Linked DNA regions of Homo sapiens: regions 1, 2, 3 and 4 are each linked to region 5. The links come from fine-mapping of genetic effects on gene expression. A gene starts in region 5. Each other region holds a variant in brackets. All regions are shown on one strand. Distances are between the middles of the regions.

What was found.
Region 1: its variant is fine-mapped to the expression of RUNX3 in whole blood (INTERVAL, PIP above 0.99).
Region 2: its variant is fine-mapped to the expression of RUNX3 in testis (GTEx, PIP above 0.99).
Region 3: its variant is fine-mapped to the expression of RUNX3 in whole blood (TOPMed, PIP above 0.99).
Region 4: its variant is fine-mapped to the expression of RUNX3 in whole blood (TOPMed, PIP above 0.99).

What each region holds. Positions count from the first base shown.
Region 1 is chr1:24,898,591-24,902,705 of GRCh38, forward strand. It overlaps RUNX3 (RUNX family transcription factor 3), which reads right to left. Exons shown (of 5, transcript NM_004350.3): 5 at 921-4,076. The coding sequence ends at 3,532. Among named protein-coding and RNA genes, the nearest start is that of MIR6731, 19 kb to the right of the region's middle. RefSeq lists enhancers at 1,991-2,040, 2,808-3,257, 3,588-3,657, 3,738-3,807. The variant T/G (reference allele first, on the strand shown) is at 2,457.
Region 2 is chr1:24,905,302-24,909,406 of GRCh38, forward strand. RUNX3 (RUNX family transcription factor 3) reads right to left here. Exons shown (of 5, transcript NM_004350.3): 4 at 1,958-2,116. Among named protein-coding and RNA genes, the nearest start is that of MIR6731, 12 kb to the right of the region's middle. The variant C/T (reference allele first, on the strand shown) is at 2,364.
Region 3 is chr1:24,747,784-24,751,898 of GRCh38, forward strand. All of the region lies in intron 1 of CLIC4 (chloride intracellular channel 4), which reads left to right. Among named protein-coding and RNA genes, the nearest start is that of CLIC4, 4.4 kb to the left of the region's middle. RefSeq lists a silencer at 1,697-1,776. The variant C/T (reference allele first, on the strand shown) is at 1,785.
Region 4 is chr1:24,855,867-24,859,981 of GRCh38, forward strand. It overlaps LOC105376876 (a long non-coding RNA gene), which reads left to right and starts at 1,216. Exons shown (of 3, transcript XR_947082.3): 1 at 1,216-1,600. The variant G/T (reference allele first, on the strand shown) is at 1,677.
Region 5 is chr1:24,928,543-24,932,657 of GRCh38, forward strand. RUNX3 (RUNX family transcription factor 3) reads right to left here and starts at 1,734. Exons shown (of 5, transcript NM_004350.3): 1 at 1,045-1,734. The coding sequence starts at 1,326. RUNX3-AS1 (RUNX3 antisense RNA 1) reads left to right here and starts at 1,915. Exons shown (of 4, transcript NR_183341.1): 1 at 1,915-3,484. RefSeq lists enhancers at 1-674, 323-502, 675-1,408, 2,848-3,437 and silencers at 973-1,412, 1,613-2,082, 3,753-3,972.

The DNA.
Region 1 (4,115 bases), 30 kb before region 5:
GCCCAGAGCAGACCAACAGAGAAGTTCTGTAGCCACGGCTGAGGTCCTGTCCAGAGATGGACCTGCTGTCTTTTGGGTAAAAGGGGATGCCGGGCTAGGGAAATGGAAGCTTCTTGTTGGGAGCTGAGTTTCAGGCAGACCAACCAAACTGAGCAGGGCAAAGCTTTGGGAGTGGTTTTTGAAGTCGGTGGGCATCACTCAAAAATAAGGTCTGTTTTGTAAAAATTTCCCTTCACAAATCCCAACTGGCCAGGCTCTGGGCTGTGTGTTGGTACAAATCCCAAGTGGACCAGGCCTCCTTGCTGGCAAGGTGGGAGGGGGGCTGTCAAGCCAGGTCCCCACACCATCACACCCATGCTACCATTGTTGGGCTGTGGTCCCAGTTCAGCCATGGACAACCCCAGGGAGACATGGACCTTGATGACACTCCTTCTTTGCACCGCAGTTGTCTCATCTGCAAAATGGGGGCACTGAAGTTGCCGCTTACTCCCAATCCCCACTGCTGCTAGCTTGCCACAGATCTTGAAACACGAGCCTCAGAGGGGGGTTCTCACCAAGGCACTTGGACTCTCCCTCTGCCTCTGCCCCCTCCCGAAATGTGAATCTGAGGAACAGGCATAGGAATTCCTCCCAACACGGCTGGGAAGACTCACAGCCCGCTCATGATTGGTGGAAGGGTTGTGGCACTTTGAAGACCTATTTGATGCTCTCCTGGGGTCCCAGCCATACAGGAGCAGGCCTCACCGGCTGTCCTGTGGCCAGGGTGGTCTCTGCGGCCATTCCTGAAGAAGTTGGAAGCAAGGAGATGAAGGTGCTGGGTGTCTCTGTTCCTGTTCCTCCTGGGCAACAGCAGGAGGTCTCCATCCTCTCCCCCACCCCACCCCACCTCCATGCATAGCCCTAGAAACCGGGCACTGGACTCCTTCCACACATCTCAGAGTTATATTATTGTAACAAATCAGTCAAAATTCCATTTTACAGTTAAATAGTACAGAAGACAGTTTACTGTACAAGCAAGTTGTGCGTTAAAAACAAACACCAAGCAAACGATAGTGCAAAGCAGTTTCCACCCAGCTCCATCCTCTCGCCAGCTCTGGGATGGTTTTACATCAGATGAGTGCAGCAGGTGTCACACCTCAGCATGACAATATGTCACAAAAGATTGGTACCCACTACTGACAGGCTCACAGTAACACTATATCAAAACGTCTTCCTTTCCTCGTGCTTCCTACATCAGTGTGTTTGCCTAGTACAACTTTAACGCAGCCTTGTAAATAAGGACCTACTTTTACCAGCCCAGGCTGTCTGTACCCACTTTGGGCCTTACAGACTCAGTACGGCTGCCGTCACTTTTTGTCAGGGGATGGGGGATGGGGTAGGAAGAGCAATTTATTTACTATCCCTGCCTCTCCAGGATCAGGAAGGGTTAGTAATCTGGGATGAGACTACAAAGTGCTGGGCACTGGGAACCCAAAGGTGCCTCCCACGCTGACCTGGGACCAGCTATAACCAGAGAACAGGAGGGAAGAAACTACAAGGACAATGGATTCATAGCTGCTTCCTAAGAAGGCATGGAGAGGCCCCTTGGGTGCAGGGAGTCAGCAACTATTTTGAGGAGATGGAGACTGTTTTTCCAGTGAGGACAGGCCAAGAGAAACCGCAGCAGGAGGGAATGGAATAGGATCACCAGAAGGACTGCCTAACCTGCCAGTGTGTCTCTGGTGTATGGTTCTGGCCGTTGTGACAGGTTGGGTGGGGACAGTGCTCTCACAGAGACAACCAATGAAGAGCATTTTGTAGGGCAGATTTCTGCATCCACAGAGGCCGAGGCAGAAAGTTAAAATACCGCATGCTGCTAGCCTTTATGAGTTCCCTTACGCCTTTTCTAAGCCTTTCTAGGGCCAGAGAACTCTGATGTGAGAATCCATGCAGCCTGGCCCTTGGGCAAGCGCCCACTTTCCCATTTTGCAAAATTCAGGGGCAAGACTTCACCTCGGAACGCAGTGCAGCTGAGCTGCGGCTGGAGAGCCCTTTACAGTGCTTCTGTCCTGCCACGCACAGCCAGTACTCCCCACCTCTCACATCCTGCCCACCTCCGCCCAGCCTCCTGGACAGATGTCCTAGAGCCACAGAGGAGAGATGCCCAGCGTCTCATCAGCGTTTCCCTCGTCCTCCCAGGGGAGCCTGTGGTGCAGGCTGGTGGGATGCTGCCTGATGGGGAGTGTAGCCCCTTGAGAAAGTATTGAGACCCTAATAACCCCACACCCTCAGGAGGCAGCTGGGGGTCCGCGGGGGGGAGAGGGGGCGGGGATGTTGCTTATAATCACAGAGCTATCATAATCACGGAACTATACCTGTAAGAGACCTTGTGTTTGAAAACGTTAGATTAAGCTTCTTTTTCTAAAATCAGTTTTAAAAACTGTTTTGTTTTTTTTTTGTTTTTTTGTTTTTTTTTT[T/G]TTTTTGCTCAGGACTATTTGCTTTCAGAGCACAAAACAGGTTACAGACAGGTGTGTGCCAGGAGTCGCAAGATTTGGCTGGATCCTCCCAGGAGGCTTGGGGGATGGGGCACAGCTTGGCTGGACCCAGGGGGGACAGGGACATTGATGTCTGACCCAAAATGATCCCTCACCTCAATGCCTTCTGCTAGGACCTATCTATCTGGCCCTCCTGTTCTCTCCACAAATGGAATTATGAGACCACCTAGGGGAAAGGGGACCTCCTATCCCCCCTCCCCCGCCCTGCCAAGAGAACAGAGAGTGGATGCGTTGAGCTGGTAAAGTGCATGGAGGAGCCGGTCTGTAGGTGCTTTCCTGGGTTTAAGAACCTGATGCCATAGACTCATCTTCTCTGGGGCCTGGGACCCGTGCGGCTGGGGGAAAGCCAACAGTTAGGAACGGAGGGGAAGCTGGGCTGGGGGGACTGGCTTGGATGTGTTCTCAAACCATCTCTGCCAGCAGCGTGCTGGGTCCTGCCCCATCTGTACAATGAGGGGAACCCCGCTCGAGGGTGGTGGGGGTGGGGGACACTTTCCAGTTCTGACTCAAATCTGTGTAAATGCAGAGGGGGCTGGACCCAGGGGATGCAGGGGCTCCAACGAAGGTGCAGGGGTCGGGAGGTTTCCCAGGGCCTGAGGCTTATCCTGTGGGCCAATGCTGCCTCTCTCTGGAAGAGAGATGGCCTCTGTCCCAGGAGACATGGGTCCCATGCAGCACTGGGCATAGCTGGAGACAGTGAGGTCCTTCCGGGGGGGTGGCAGGAGGCTGATTCCCCACAGAAGTATGGGATGAGACGGCCAGGATCTGGGCCGGGGGCAGTATCCCGGGCCGGGGTGGGGGTGGTAACCTATGCCTCTGTACAAGGATGTGGCTGCACAGATGCAGCCAGAGGCTCCCACCAGCTGGGACCACCCTGGGACCGAGACCACCCTGGAGCGCAGGTCCCATTCCCGCCCGGAGCCTCGGAGCCGGCCCATCACTGGTCTTGAAGGTTGTTAGGGTCCCCGCCTCCAGCGGGAGGAGTCCACCAGGGCGGTCAGTAGGGCCGCCACACGGCCTCATCCATGCGGCCTGGCGTGCTCAGGGCCGTGGGTGAGTTGCTGTGGCTGCCGTCGGCCTCCACGCCATCACTCTGGCCGCCCAGGCTGGGGTTCATGAGGTTGCCGGCGGCGACAGAGGCAGCGCTGCTGGTGCAAGAGGCCAGCATGCGGGTAGGTGAGCGGTCGCCCCCACTGCTGCTGCCGGCCACCATGGAGAACTGGTAGGAGCCAGAGGATGTCCCGTAGTAGAGGTGGTAGGGGGACGGGTTGGCCTGGAAGGGCCCGCTCTGGTTCTGCGGGGCCCCCGGGTAGGGTGGCGGGAGGTAGGTATGGTGGAAGCGGCTGGTGGCCGGCATGCCCGCCACGCTGAGGCTGCTGATGCTCGTGCCCGAGGGCGTGGCGCTGTAGGGGAAGGCAGCTGACATGGCCCCGGGATAATGCATCCTGGGGTCTGGGAAGCGGCTCTCCGTGAGGGTTGGCAGCGTGGGGAAGGAGCGGTCAAACTGGCGGGGGTCGGAGAATGGGTTCAGTTCCGAGGTGCCTGGAGGACAGCAGGGAAGAGGTCAGTTCCAGCTCGAGA
Region 2 (4,105 bases), 23 kb before region 5:
GTGACTTGTCTAAGATCATACAGCCAATGCCTGGCAGAGCCTGAATTCCTAGCCTGGTCCAGCTGACTGCAGAGTTCATGCTCGCCCTGTCCTGGTCATCCGAGGCCCTTTCTCTCACCCAAAGGGGATGGGCCTGAGGATGGAGATGCCTGGCTGCCTGTGGCCCAGTGCTGTGGGGGGCTAGCGAGGGACTGGGCCAGGCCTCAGGAGGGAGCAGGCAGAGAAGCAGAAGTCAGCCACTGCCCCACACAGGCTGGGCTCCTTTCCTCCCAGCCCAGGATGGAAGCAGCAGCTGTGCCTGCCGTGGGGCCAGGCATTGATTCCCAAGCTGTGCCCACCCAGCAGTGGATGGGCAGATGTGGGCTCTCCTTCCATGGGGGCTGGTGGACAGGAAGCCACTGTTCACCCCACCTCCTGGATTCTGGCTCCCCCGCTGAGCCCCGATCCCCTGGCCTGGCTCTGTCCATGGCAGAGAAAGGCTGGCTCTCAGGCTACTGCACCTCGACAGATGCTGGCCCATGGGTAGCAGAAGCAGAGGCAGCTACGCGGCAGGGGTGGGCGTGAGCACAGCGTGCAGGGCTCCTTCCGCTACCTCTTGAGAGCAGACCTCCAACTCCTGGGCTCGAGAGCTGAGAGTCTCAAATGCACTAGCTCCTGGGCTCAGAGAGGCTGGGCCTGGGGCTTCTCCCAACCTTGGCGTCTCAGCAGGACCAAGGCCAAAAGTCCTGAGCCCAGGCCAGAAGGGGAGGGGTCCTCTCTTCACACTGAAGGCCTGCATCCAGCCCCTGGCTGCAGCACTATGCCTGGAACAATGTCAGTAGAGAGACCCAGTCGGCCCCCACCTCAGCGTGGCACCGGAAAAGGGGGTGGGGCAGGCAGACCGGTTGGCAGCCCTGTTCCAGGCCCCTTTATCTGTCCCCTCAGAAGTACAGAAAGTTCTTGGGAGCAGGTACTGTGGAGACTGTGGACCTGGTCACAGATGGGCTGTGTGACCCGAGGGTGGCTCTGAACCTCTTAGGCCTCTCAATTCATTCATCTGCCAAGGGGTTCTAACCAGGCTCTGGGGAATTGAGAAAGAATGGGCACAGTCCGTGACGGCAGCCAGCTGCCTGCCTCTGTCCACCCGGCCACCAAGCACCCTTGGCACCCCACTTAGCCCAAGGGCCGGCTGTGCACACAGCCTCCCATGTCCCCAGCTCACTGACTGAGAGAACAGAGGAGAGATGCAGCCGGCAGCCGTTTAGTGAGCGGCTACTATGCGCCAGGCACCTCGATACTCCAGAAGACCTGCCTGAGGCCTGGCTGCAACTGTGCTTGCTGTATCCGTCTAGGCAGTGGAGATGGAGACCCCAGCTCGGTCTTCCCTTCCACCTCAGCTCCTCCTGTTTGGGAGGATGCTCTGGGCAGGGTGGGAGACCTTTCCCAGGAATGCTATGTGCCTCTCTAGGGTTGGAATGTCACTTAACAGTGTGCAAAGTTTGTGTGAGTACAGTAATGTCATTTGAATGTCATCCCAGCCCTGGGTGGAGGCATCCGCCCCAATCCACTTTCAGATGAAAAATCGCAGGCTGTGGGGCAGGGGTGGGGAAACTGTACATGGCAGGGGCGAGTCTGTCACGGCTCCTTGGACAAGTCATGCCCCAATTTTAATAGGGGCACTATGGGGTTAACCCCATTTCCCCAGGCACAGTGAACTCCTGGTATGCAGATCCCTGGGGCCAGGCACCAGGCATGTGTCAGTAATGTCAGTGTTTGCTGAGTGAACGAATGATGGCTAGCACACAGAAAGCCCACAGGAACCGTCTGCAGGTGCCAATGAGCACCAGCAGCTCCTCTACAAAACAAGGGGGTGCAGTGACTGATCTTCGGACAGGCTTTTGGTCTGGGGCAGATTGGACCACATCGAGGCCCTCCACCCCCACCTCACCCCGCTGCAGCCCCTCCCTCCGTGCCGTACCTTGGATTGGGGTCTGGGGCTGGCTGCTGAAGTGGCTTGTGGTGCTGAGTGAGCCTCGGGGGCTGGGTGTGCTCGGTGTCACCCGCATGCGCAGCCGTTCCAGGTCCCCAAAGCGGTCAGGGAACGGCTTGGTCTGGTCCTCCAGCTTCTGCCGGTGCCCTGCAGAGCACAGGAAGCCCATCAGCCGTTGCTTCCCCAGAGTCTCAGTGGAGACAGAAATGCCTCACTCTGCTGGGAAGTTCTTCCTGAGGTCTGACCTTAGGCCTCTGCTGGGAGAACCCTGAGGTCACCGCCAGCCTCTTCACAGAGGTTTTCAAAAGACTTTCTGAACAGAGAATGGTCGTTATGTGCCACCCCACATATCTAAACCTCTACAACACACGGTGATCCAAACCTCTACAACACG[C/T]GGTGATCTAAACCTCTACAACACGCGGTGATCTAAACCTCTACAACACGCGGTGATCTAAACCTCTACAACACACTGTGATGTAAACCTCTACAACACGCGGTGATCTAAACCTCTACAACACACGGTGATCCAAACCTCTACAACACACGGTGATCTAAACCTCTACAACACACGGTGATCTAAACCTCTACAACACACTGTGATGTAAACCTCTACAACACGCGGTGATCTAAACCTCTACAACACACTGTGATGTAAACCTCTACAACACGCGGTGATCTAAACCTCAACCACACGCGGTGATCTAAACCTCTACAACACGCGGTGATCTAAACCTCTACAACACGCGGTGATCCGAACCTCAACCACACGCGGTGATCCGAACCTCTACGACACACGGTGATCCGAACCTCTACGACACGCGGTGATCCGAACCTCTACGACACGCGGTGATCCAAACCTCTATGACACGCGGTGATCCGAACCTCTACGACACGCGGTGATCCGAAGCTCTACGACACGCGGTGATCCGAACCTCTACGACACGCGGTGATCTGAACCTCTATGACACGCGGTGATCTGAACCTCTACGACACGCGGTGATCCAAACCTCTACGACATGTGGTGATCCAAACCTCTACGACACACGGTGATCCAAACCTCTACAACACACTGTTTGGCAGAAGAGGAAACTGAGGGCCAGGTGCAGTGGCTTACGCCTATAATCTCAGCACTTTGGGAGACTGAGATGGGAGGATCAGTTGAACCCAGGAGTTTGAGATCAGCCTGGGCAACTATCGAGACCCCTGTCTGTACAAAAATTAAAAAAAAAAAAGAAAAAAGAAAAACTTAGCCAGGTGGGGTGGCACAAGCCTGTAGTCCCAGCTACTGGGATGACTGAGGCAGGAGGATCACTTGAGCCCAGGAGGTGGAGGCTGCAGTGAGCTGATTGTACCACTGCATCCCAGTCTGGGCAACGGAACAAGGACCCTAGATCTAAAAAAAGGAAACTGAGGCAACAGACATGAGAAAGTGGCTCATGCCCCCAAGGGAGGCAGGGAGATAACCCAGGAGCACTGCCACCCTCTGCCTCCCAGCATCCCAGCCTGCCTTGCACACTGTCTCCCATGTCTACAAGAACAATGGGAGGTGGCCCCAGGAGGGGACTGCAGGCTTTTCCAGCCCTAAGTCACTCTGGGATCCCCAGAACATGCCTTCTTCTCTCTGGGCCTCAGGCAGAAAAATAACTCCACCAGGATGCTGGGCAGAGGTGTAGGGGGCTTGCATGAGGGACTAGACAGCCATCTCTGCCTGGAAGCTGGGGTCAGGGGACGAGATGTCACACCTGGAGAAAACTGCCAGCATTTTCCACTCCCTATCTGCCAGAGCCCACACAGGAAGAATCCCAGCCTCACATCCGAGGACTCAGAGGTGCTGGGAGGGTCAAGGTGGCCAGGCTCCCACCCTCCTGCGGCCTGCTGAGGCCGAGGGACACTTCTGGAGTGATATCAAGCTTGCAGGGACCTCCCCCGCCACACACACTTTTTTAATTACTAATTTTACATTTCACAAGCAACACGTGAATATTTACAAAAATAAAAGCATTACAGATAAGGCTCTGTCCACCGCTCTAAGCTCCTCTCCAGAGTCCCCACCGTGACCAGTTTCTTTCCAGACATTTTTCATCTTCCATGAATGGAAAACGCAAAGTAGGCTTCTCATGGAACTCTCTTGAACAG
Region 3 (4,115 bases), 180 kb before region 5:
TAGCATTTTGGGATGCCGAGATGGGGAGATCACTTGAGGCCAGGAGTTCGAGACCAGCCTGGCCAACATGGTGAAACCCTGTCTCTACTAAAAATAGAAAAATTAGCCAGGCATGGTGGTGGGCCCAGCTATTCGGGAGGCTGAGGCATGAGAATCGCTTGAACCGGGGAGGCAAAGGTTGGAGTGAGCCAAGATCAAGTCACTGCACTCCAGCCTGGGCGACAGAGTGAGACTTCGTCTCAAAAAAAAAAAAAAAAAGATAAAGCTATTATCAGTTATGGCTCTATTCAGTATTCTATTATTCTATTGGAGGAGCTAATCAAAGAAGACAAGAAAAATTAAGTATCTGAATTAGGAAGAGATCAGTGATTAATGCCCTGCTTACTATTAATTTCATCTTTCAGTTAGAATAGCAGAGGGGCGTGTGCAGTTTTCCAAACTTGAGTCACTTGCATCCCCTTTCTGTTTTTCATATTTGTGTTGAGAACCACTGAAAATCATCCTTCCTACCACTAGTTGTAAGCCTTTCTCATTGGGCTTGGTGGCAGAGAATCAGGGTTCAAGTCACAGTTCTTTACTCCTTGGTTGGGTGACCCTAGGCAGTTTGTTTTCACTCTTTAAGCCTTGTTTGTCTCATTTGTGAAATAAGAAATGTTTTCTGCTACCCAGTGATTCAACATAGGCAAACTTTGCACTGATACAGATCAGGTTTTTTGTTTTTTTTTTTTTTTTTTTTTTTAATGAGATGGTGTCTCGCTCTGTCACCCTGGCTGCTGGAGTGCAGTGGCGCGATCTCGGCTCACTGCACCCTCTGCCTCCCAGGTTGAAGTGATTCTTCTGCCTTTGCCTTCCGAGGAGCGCATGCACCACTACGCCTGGCTGATTTTTGTATTTTAGAAGAGACTGGGTTTTACCATGTTGGCCAGGCTGGTCTCAAACTCCTGACCTTAAGTGATCTGCCTGCCTTGGCCTCCCAAAGTGCTGGGATTACAGGCTTGAGCCTCTGTGCTTGGCCCCTAGACCAGTTTGTTTGAAAGGGGAAAAAAGGACAGGTAAAATGTGGTAAAGGGCATTCTTGATCTCTTCTCAAAACCTACGTGTGGGAAATGCAAATGGGGGAAATACCCTTGTAAATATAGTTATTTTGAAAGCAGTGGACCAGGTGTGGTGGCACACTCCTGTAATCCCAGCCTTTTGGGAGGCGGAGGGGGGTGGATCACTTGATGTTGAGACCAGCCTGGGCAACATGGCGAAACCGCATTTCTACTAAAAATACAAAAATTAGCCACGCATAGTGGTGCATGGCTGTAATCCCAGCTACTCGGGAGACTGAGGCAGGAGAATTGCTTGAACCTGGGAGGCGGTGGTTGCAGTGAGCCGAGATAGTGCCACTGCACCCCAGCCTGGGTGACAGAGCAAGACTCCATCTCAAAAAATAAAAATTAAAAAAAAAAAAAAGAAAGTAGAGAGGGTGCAGAGGCTGTGGTTGTCCAGAGTGGTATGTTGAACAGTGTTAACCTGCCAAGAGGTATCTGAGTTTGTAAAAGAAAACTATTTACAGTTGAAGCACATAGCATGTATGGAAATTAGAAATTTGGTGGTGGCGCTAGGGGAAAGGCCAAGAGATGTAATGGGGCTTTGAGCCTACCTGTCTAGCTAGCACTGAGCTTCACATTTAAGAGAGAGAGATGAGCACCTTCTCAAATAGTATGACTGAACTCACAGCTGCATTTCCTTCCTTGTGAGTAGTTTTTGGAGTTGTCTGCCTGTGAGCCCATTAACTC[C/T]CTGTCATCTATATAACAGCAGGATGGTTTTTTTGGTTTGTTTTTGTTTTGTTTTACCCTCAACATCTGGAGGATAGATAGGATGCCCTCTCAAAAGTAAAAAAGGCAGCTGGGCTGTGGTGGCTCACGCCTGTAATCCTAGCACTGTAGGAGGCCAAGGAGGATGAATCTTTTGAGCGCAGGAGTTCTAGACCAGCCTGGGCAACATGGCGAGACCCTGTCTCTACAAAAACTATTAAAAAAATTGCCAGGCACAGTGGCTCACGCCTGTAATCCCAGTACTTTGGGAGGCTGAGGCAGGCGGATCTCTTGAGCCTAGGAGTTCGAGACCAGCCTGGGCAACGTAGCAAAACCCCATCTCTACAAAAAATATAAAAAATTAGCTGGGTGTGGTGATACATGCCTGTGGTCCCAGCTGAGGTGGGAGGATTCCTTTAGCCTGGGAGGCAGAGGTTGGCTGTGAGCCGTGATCGTGCCACTGCACTCCAGCTTGGGTGAGACCCTATCTCTAAATAAATAAGTAAGTAACTAAGCTGGGCCTGGTGGCCCACGCCTGCAGCCCTAGCCCTAGAGGCTGCGGGTGGGAGGATTGTTTGAGCCCAGGAGTTCGAGGCTGCAGTGAGCTTATGATCATGTACCTGCACTCCAATCTGGGTGACAGAACAAGACCCTGTCTCGGGAGGAAAACAACAAAGGCTTATAATGGCAATCATCCTCAACAGTGGAGATGCTCTCTACCCCACTCAGGAGCCTGGTAGGTGTATATATTTCCAGCTGGGAACCACCAACAGATACGGTATATTTGAGACCTTTTAGCAAGGGCATAAGGTCCCTTGTAATCTGGGTTTCTTTCTTTCTTTCTTTCTTTCTTTTTTTTTTTTTTTTTAAGACGGAGTTTCGCTCTTGTTACCCCTCAGCCTCCCGAGTGGCTGGGACTACAGGTGTGCACCACCACACCTGGCTAATTTTGTATTTTTAGTAGAGACAAGGTTTCTCCATGTTGGTCAGGCTTGTCTCGAACTCCTGACCTCAGGTGATCAGCCTGCCTTGGCCTCCAAAAGTGCTGGGATTACAGGCGTGAGCCACCGAGCCTGGCCTACTGCCTGAGTTTCTAATCCAATATGTCCAGTTACTAATTGTGTATCCCAGGATACATCACTTAAACCTGTCTGTGCCACATCTGCACAGTTGGGATATTAGTAGAACAGTCCTATGGGATAAATTAATATATGTAGTATGCAACAATCTTAGAACAATGTCTAGTACACAGTAAGCAAATAAATGCTAGTTGTGTATAATTTTGTATGAATATATATTTATAGGCAGATCTCCCCTACTAGATAGACAGTAAATTCCTTGAGGATAGGGTGTGCATATGGTTCAGAGTGCCTGCAACTTAAGAGGATGCCAAATGTTTGAAATGAGATTGTGCCCTTCTTTCAGAGAATTCTGTTGTTGAGCATTTTGTTGTCAATGTATGTCTCTACCATGCTTTGGAATTAGAAACCACTTACTGAGATCCCGATGGTTGGAGCATCAAAGCATGGTTCTTCATCCTGATTTCTCTAGCCTCCAGTCTCCAAACCCAGTGTAATTTTATGTACTCACCTCTTTTTTTTCTCCATTTAATACTTCCAGTCTTTTTTTTTTTTTTTTTTTTGAGATGGAGTCTTGCACTGTTACCCGGGCTGGAGTGCAGTGGCACGATCTTGGCTCACTGCAACCTCTGTCTCCCGAGTTCAAGCGATTCTCCTGCCGCAGACTCCCGAGTAGCTGGGGTTACAGGCACCCGCCACCATGGCCAGCTAATTTTTTGTATTTTTAGTAGAGATGAGGAGCTAATTTGTATTTGTAGTAGAGACGGGGTTTCACTATGTTGGCCAGGCTGGTCTTGAACTCCTGACCTAGTGATCCACCCGCTCGGCCTCCCAAAGTGCTGGGATTACAGGCGTGAGCCACCGTGCCAGTCTTTTATATATTTACTAGTGTTTCTTCTTGGCTATGTCCAGAATTTGGGGAACCAAGATTTTTGTTTGGGTAAAACTAAATATTAACTCTTGAACCACAAATGAGAGTAATAGAGATGGGGTTTCTCCATCCAGCTTGGCCAACATGGCGAAACCCCGTCTCTACTAAAAATACAAAAATTAGCCGGTCGTGGTGGCGGGCGCCTGTAATCCCGGCTACTCGGGAGTCTGAGGCAGGAGAATCACTTGAACCCGGGAAGCGGAGATTGCAGTGAGCCGAGATTGTGCCATTGCACTCCAGCCTGAGGGACAAGAGCAAGACTCTGTCTCAAAAACAATCAAATCAAAAAACAGAAAGTAATCC
Region 4 (4,115 bases), 73 kb before region 5:
CCAGGAGGCAAGGATTTTGGGGGGCCTTTAGAGGCTGGTGACCACCATCTATTGTAAAAGATCACGTTTTATAGCATCTCCCCTCACAGTGTTGCATTGTAAATTTTTTGCAAATTTAATGAGTTGATTTTGTAGTAGATGAGTAAATTTTGTAGTTAATACTGATACGAACATACTTGTGCACACAGCTTCTTGTTTCTGAAGTAGTTCTTAGAAATCTGTCCCTGGGAATGGAACTCGTGAGTCAAAAGATCTCAACCCATTTGTGGCTATTTCTTCGGATTGTACCAATTTTCAGTGCTACTAGCAAGCCAATGGTAGACCAAGTCCACTTCAGCTCCATCTACATTAGACCTTAATGCCGCCAGACAGAGCAGGGTGCCAGAACATGAAAATGACGCTCTGTCATCAAAATAATGGCAAATAATAAGCACCAGGCACTGTTCTGGGCTTCAATACCATGCTGCCTGGAGGAGACCTTCCATAGTGAAGACTGGAGGCTCTTTTCTGGGAGGCCCTGGATAACAGGTCCTCTGCTGGATGGTTTTAAACCAAACTGTTTTTTTGTTTGATTGTTTGTTTGCTTTCTGAGATGGAGTCTTGCTCTGTCACCCAGGCTAGAGTGCAGTGGTGTGATCTTAGCTCACTGCAACCTCTGCCTCCCATGTTCAAGCGATTCTCCTGCCTCAGTCTCCTGAGTAGCTGGGATTACAGGCACCTGCCACCACGCCTGGCTAATTTTTATATTTTCAGTAGAGATGGGGTTTCACCATGTTGGCCAGGCTGGTCTCAAACTCCTGACCTCAAGTGATCCTCCCGCCTCGGCCTCCCAGAGGGCTGGGATTATAGGCATGAGCCACCGTGCCCGGCCCAAACTGGTTTTGAAATTGCGTTTTCTACCACCTCTTGGAAAGGCAGCATGGGGAGGTGGAGAGGACAGCGGCCTTGTAAGAAGACAGTCTGGTTCAAATTTTAGCTCTACCATGTGCTGGCTGGGTGAACTTGGGCAAGCTGCTTTCCTTCTTGTGCCTCAGTATCCCCATTGGTAAACAGAGATCACAGCACCAACCTCCCAGGGTAGCTGGGAGGATTGAAGAGGCCGCGATGCCGCCTTCCCGGCACCACAGTTCCTGCAGTGCAGGCGCCCAGCAAATGCTGGTTTTCCACCTCTCTGCCTCTCCCATTTCCCCTTCTTGGTTCGCACATTTGACACTTACTGGCTGAAATACTTCCTGTGATATGTCCTTGGTTTCTCCTGAAGAAAAAAAAGTCCAATCTGTTTTTTTTTTTTCTAATTATAATAGCGATGCACGTTCACCGCTGAAAAATTTGGAAAGTACAAAGAAGGAAATAAAAATCACCCGCAATTTCACACCCCAGATCTGTGACTGTGAACATTTGGGTGTGTCTCCTCCTGGGTGTCGGACCACTTCTTATTCTCAGAATTCTATGGGGTGGCTCCGGGGCAGTGTGACACCTCTGTCCAGGCCCCAGCGAGGGGTAGAGTGAGTGCTGGACAGGGGTCCCCAAACGGGCCACTTTTGCTGCATGTGTGGAGACAGATAGGACTTCAAGACTCAGTCCTCGCCACCTGCAGAAGGTAAGACCAGGAGCCTTGAGGGGGACAGTTCTGCCCTGCATTTGCCCCCTTTCCCCGGCAAGTCCCTGGCCTTAGG[G/T]AGTGGCCATCCCAAACTCATCCGGACTTTGGCCATTTCTTGTTTCTGGGCTTCAGTGTCCTTATCTGTTAAGTGAGCAGCTGGGCCCCTTGACTTCCAGGTCTAACACTGTGTGTCATGAGAGGCGTCCGTGGAAGAGAAGGTGCTTTGCTGCTGGTGGGACCTCATGCATGTGTAGGTGTTTATTTCTCTGGGGTCCTCTCCTTCTGCTAAGAAGAGAAGAGGACAAACCTCACGCCAGCCTTCAATTGCCTTCGCCCCTGAACTGTGTCTTGTCAGCCTCCTCAGCTGCTCTTTGAGTACTTGAGTGAGGCAAGGACCTGCTGGGGGAGCTGTTGTGAGGATCCAATGAAACAAGGCCTCTGAGGCAACAGAATAGAGTTGTAATGGCACTATCAGTAGAGAGGGACTGTCCAGGTTTAAATCCCTGGCTGTGTGACCTTGAGCAAGTTACTCAACTACTCTGTGCCTCAGTTTTTTCTTTTTTTTTTTTTCCTTTCCTTTCCTTTTATTTTTTCTTTCTTTCTTTCTTTTTTTTTTTTTTTTTTTTTTGAGACAAGGTCTTGCTCTATTGCCCAGGCTGGAGTACAGTGGCCCCATCATGGCTCACAGCAGCCTTGACCTCCTGGGCTCAATCGATCCTCCCACCTCAGCCTCCCAAGTAGCTGGGACTACAGGTGAGTGCTACCACAACTGGCTAATTTTCAAATATTTTGTAGATACGGGATCTCAATATGTTGTCCAAGTTGGTCTCCAACTCCTGGTCTCAAATGATCCTCCCAAAGCAATGGGATTACAGGAGTGAGCCAGCATGCCCGGCCATCCCTTATCTTTAACCTGGGAAAGATGATCATAACATCAAATAAATTGTGTGCAGATTCAATGAGTTAATATGTGTGAAGCCCTTAGAACAGTGCTTGGCACATAGTAGGTGCTATGTGAGTACTAGATATCATTACAGTGCCTGAAATGTAATAAGTGCTCTGAGATGTGTGCTATTAGAATTGTAAAGAGATTCCAAAAATGGAGGCATGTTTGACATGAAAAGTGAAAGTTTCTCCTGCCCCACTTAATCTCACTCTCCAGAAGAAACCACTGTGAACAGTTCCTTCCCTAGGCCACCTTCCAGATCATTCTTTAGAAATACATCATGATTATGCATATAGTGTTTTCTTTTTACTTTTCTTTAGGTTTTTGTTTGTTTGTTTGTTTGTTTTTTGAGACAGGATCTTGCTCTGTCACCCAGGTTGGAGCACAGTGGTGCGATCATGGCTCACTGCAACCTCCACCTCCTAGGCTCAGGTGATCCTCCCACCTTGGCCTCCCAAAGTGCTGGGATTACAGGCACGAGCCACCACACCTGGCCCATGTTTTCTTTTTAAACCATCACATCATACAGAGTGTTTGCAAGTTGCTATTTTCTTCACAGTATCACGGACATACCTGCATGTCGGGATGTACTAACACATAGCTGTGAAATTTTGCCACCAATTTCCTATTGATGGACAGACAGTTGGACTTGTCTACTTTTTCTCCTTTTTTTAATTATACAAAATAAGCAAGGAACATCTTTCTGTAGAGCTTCACACTCCAAAAGGAGTATCCCTGAGGTTGAGGAGATGAGGGGGACATGAGCAGGACAACGTCACCTGCTCCAGGAGGCACAATCAGAGGCAGTGAATGGCCCACCCTTCTGAGTGGCTCTAATGTGTCACCCTGCGAGGACCCCTGCCCCCACACCCAAAGGAGACAGGGGTGTGCCCAGGGGCATTCCTCTTGGAGGTAAAGACAGAAGTGCAGGGTCGGGAGGGAACAAGAGAACTGAGGTGACCCTGGAGGCTATTTCTCACCTGAAATTATGTAGACATTTTCATTATGAAAATTTTCAAACATACAGAAAAGGTGCAGGAGTCATCTAACAAATCTCCATACAAGTATCCACGCAGCCACCAACCAGATGTAATAGCTGCTGACACTTGCTGTATTTGTTTTATCTGTCTATTCCAAAACATTTCAAAGTAAGCTGTAAACATTTTGACATTTCACTAATTCAACATTGTGTCACCCAGGCTGGGGTGAAGTGGCACAATCTCGGCTCACTGCAGCCTTGACTTCCTAGGATTAGGTGATTCTCCCACTTCAGCCTCCCAACTTGATGGGACCTCAGGTGCACGCCATAATGCCGGCTGCCCAGCTAATTTTAATTAATACACACACACACACACACACATATTTATTTATTTATTTATTTATTTATTTATTTATTTATAGAGATGAGGTTTCACCATGTTGCCCAGGCTGGCCTTGAACTCCGGGGCTCAAGCAATCCTCCTGCCTCAGCCTCCCAAAGTGCTGAGATTACAGACGTGAACCAATGTGCCTGGCCCATAATATTTTTTTAGTTTTGCTCTAACACCCAGGCTGGAGCGCAGTGGCATG
Region 5 (4,115 bases):
ATTTCAAGGAGAAAATGTTTGGGATCTGATTAAGAAGACCAGATTTCCTGTCAACATCCTGTCTTCTTTTAATTTCAAAGACTCCTTTTAAGCTCCAAGTGACAGTAAAACCTCCGATCTGACGATTAAAGTCACACGGGCCTCCCGCCCCTCCCGGCGAGATTTCCCCCACTGGTATTTTAAGATGTCACCCGGGAGACCTCAAAGAGCCACTCTTCCTTTTTTTCCCATTTAGAGTCGTCTTAATGGGAGCAGGGACGGCCTCAGCTTCCAGCCACCTCGGGCAGCACCACCCCCAGCCGCCGGCCCTTCCTGCCCTGCCCTTTTCTCACGGCAGCTGTGAGAGGTTTAGGGGAAAACCGAGGCGTTTTCGTTTCATCTCGCTGCCCCCTTAAAAAAATGAAAATGAAACAGTCGCCTACTCCCTGGCATAAAGAAAAAGGTCCTCTAAATGGCTGGGGGCTGCCAGGGTTAGGGGTCCCCCAATCTCAACTCGCCATTCGGGACGCATAATATCCCCGAGCAAACGTCTGGAGAGCAGTGCCCCGATCCCGGCCTAGCGCCGTCCGGTAAAATTTCGGAAGCCCGAGGGTGTGAGCAGGAAGCTTTTGCGAAGCGGCGCGGGAGGAGGGGTGCTGGAGGCGGAGGGTAGGCCCTTTCACCGTTCGCACCCCACCCGCGGTGTCCTTGCCCCTGTCCCGGGATCCTCTTCTCCGTTACCCGCAGGGCTGTATCTGAGCGATCCGGGTTAGGGGGGCGCAAAACCCCATCCGCCCATTTCCGCACCAACGTCTCTACGCAAGGCGCCCCAAAACCCAGGTGGAGCGGGGCAACCCCGTTAAAAGTCATTCCTGCAGGGCGCATCCAAAACGGAACGCCGAGGTCCCGGAGCCGAGCGCGCAGCCAGACTGAACCGGGTGCCCGGGTGTCGCCGCGGCGTCTCGGGCACCTCCCATCCCCACTGCTCCCGAGGCTCTGGCTCCCGCAGCTCAGACGCCCGGAGCCCCAGGGCCGGCGCCCTCCCGCCCCGGGTCCCGCACTCACCTTGAAGGCGACGGGCAGCGTCTTGTTGCAGCGCCAGTGCGAGGGCAGCACGGAGCAGAGGAAGTTGGGGCTGTCGGTGCGCACGAGCTCGCCTGCGTGGTCCGCCAGCACGTCCACCATCGAGCGCACCTCGGGCCGGGCGCGCCCTCCGGGCCCCACGGCCGCCTGCGCGCTCAGCGCGCCGCTGTTCTCGCCCATCTTGCCGCCGCCGCCGCCGCAGGGGAAGGCCGGGGAGGGAGGTGTGAAGCGGCGGCTGGTGCTTGGGTCTACGGGAATACGCATAACAGCGGCCGTCAGGGCGCCGGGCAGGCGGAGACGGCGCGGCTTCCCCCGGGGGCGGCCGGCGCGGGCGCCTCCTCGGCCGCCGCTGCCGCGAGAAGCGGGAAAGCAGAAGCGGCGGGGCCCGGGCCTCAGGGCGCAGGGGGCGGCGCCCGGCCACTACTCGCCAGGGCCCGCCCGCTGCGAGGCCTCGCTGGCCCGACGGCCGCCCGCAGCCTGCCCGGCTAGTCCCGCATCCTCGGCGCGCGGCCCCGCGTGCGGCCGCCCCTCGTGGCTGTCCCGGCTGCCTGGGCCGCGGCGGGGCCCGCGCGGGGCTGTGCCGCTGCCGCCGCCTCCCGCCCCGAAGCTCGCCCGCGGCCGCCCCGACTCCGCGGCCGCAGCCCCAGAACAAATCCTCCAGAATCAAGTGGCGGGGCCGCGGCCGCCCGCGCGGGGTTAGTACCCCCGGGGCCCGCGGGGCGGGGCTGGCGGAGCGACGCGTCGCACAGCCAATCGGCGGAGCCCCCATCGCGGGCACCTCGGTGGCGTTCGCGGGGAGGAACGGGGCCTGCCGGAGGCCGCCCAACGGGGAGGGGCGGAAGGCGCCACCCCGCGGAGGAGGCCCCAGTGCCACAGCCCAGGGCCCCCGAGAGCTCTGGGAGCCCGGGGCAAATGCTAGAAATTTGCTTAGAACGTCCGGGTCCCACGGAAGGCGCCCTTGCCGCCCTCTCTCGGGTCGTAGCTCCCTGACGCTGGGGCGCAACCCCTTCGCTCCTCCTCCCCGCTGGCCGCGGCCGGGCTTCCCCAGCTCTTGCTGCTTCGGGCCTGTGACTTCTGCAACCCCGGGCTGGGGGCCGCGGGGTCTCAGGGCCGGTGACGCCGCACTGGGAGCCGCCCCAAAGAGGTTACTCACCTCCCTCGTCCCGCACATTATTCTGACCCAAGAGCCTCCACCCCACACGGGATTTTGCGCGTCGTCCACGCCCGGCCGGCGGCCTTTGCTGCTCCCAGCCCTGCGCGGCTTTGGTCCCAGCCTCGGTGGCCCCTGTGCCAAACCGGGGACAGGCGGAAGGGAGTCTCCTAGGGACCCTAAGTAGCCTGGGGCCAACAACCCCTTTCCTCTCTGCTCTCCCCTCAAAACAAGTTTCAGGATCTTGCAGGCCTCGCGGCGTCGTTCTTCGTTGTGGCGGCCTGTGGCTCTTTGAAAAACACGACGAGGCCTGCAAAATGCGTTTTTCTTTTTTTCCTTTACGCATGTAACCACGGTCCTGCATCGTGAAACGGTACGCGCGTCGGTGGCAAAAGAAAAACAGCAGTGGCTGCAAAGCTAAGGGCCCTCGCTTTCAGAGGAGAGAATTTTCTTTCTCCATGCGGGTGGAAAGTGGCCTCTGCGGGTCCAACCCCACTTCTTCTTGGGCCCGTGCGCTCCGGCTGCGCCGCAGGGACCGCGGACAGCTTCGCCAAGGCACTGCCTGCCCGCCCGGCTCCGGGTCCCCGCTCCCACTCCCAGCCGCGTGGCCCAACCTCTCCTGGGCTTCACTGCAAATCACCCCTTCCTCTCCCGCCTCCTAAGTCTGTCGAGCAGACCTAGGGGCCGGCTACAGTTGGGAGGGCAACGGGAAAGATCAAGCCACAATCATTCCGAATTATCGCCCCAGACACCTCCCTAGACTCTGGGGAACGAACGCGTGCTGAGCCTCCCCGCCGCTTTGGAGACGGGGCTAGATTTTCGTTGCCTCCGGCTCTCGACAGGTGCAAAACAATGAATTCCAAGCCTCGGAAGCAAAGAAGCTTAGGATCCGACGGTGGCCGCAAGATCTCATCATGGATCTGACCCCTGCTCAGCGCGCGCCATTTCGTCGTTGCCAAACGAAATCAAGCCCCGCGTGCGCTCCAGGGGCGAAGGACTCTGGACTCACCCCGACCACCGGGAGAGCTGGCCCCTACCCACCTCGGGACCTCACAGCACGCCCTCAGGCCGTGTCGAAAGGAAGGACGGCAAAGGTCCCTTACTGAACCTTTTAAGAGAGCCTGCGCCTGGCAGTTGTCGATTGCGGACCCAGGCCCGCGCGCCCTCGGACGCGCTGGCACGAGCAGCAGAACTAGAGGAAAGCGAGTGATCCAGCCTGGGCGCTCCCACCTCCGGGAACGTCTCCGAGAAGGCGCAGCGCGTCGTGGCCAGGTAGGGCCCTGGCCGGGGGCGGGCAACACGTGCTGCCCTCGAGCAGGTTGCGGGACCATGACCCGCTGTTTCAGGTGGTGGTAAATTCCATTTGTCGAATGGTTTCGGTTTGCACCGTGCCCTTTGCTTGTTCCTCCGCCTGATTTCTCCCTCTCCGCTTACGATGGGTTCACAGACAAGTTTCCAGAGAATGAGGGACTCTTGTGGGCCCTGGCACCTGGCGCAGGGCCCGGCACGGCTCCGGCTCTCCGTAGGGCGCTGGCTCCCCGTGGGCACCAGATCCAAGGGACCAGGGCGGCGGGGGGAGGGGGGGCGGGTGCAGGCCCTTGGGTCCCCAGACCAAGGTCGCGGGGCCGCCTGGCAGGCACAGTGGCGGGAGCCGCCGCTAGTTGGCGCCCGCGCCCTGCCAGCCGCGGAGGTGCGGGCCCGGCCGGGCTACAGATGCGCGCCAGCTGCGGCCCCGGGTGCAGGCGCGGCGACCGCCCCCGAGGAGCTGCCCTTTCCTTGCCATCCATGCGGCCAGGTCTCAGACAAACCGATGGCTTTGTGTCAAACCAAGGCCGCCTTCCTCACCTCTGATAAGATGGACGCCTTCTGTCTTCGCGTTTTCAGGCACCCGGGGAAGACCCAC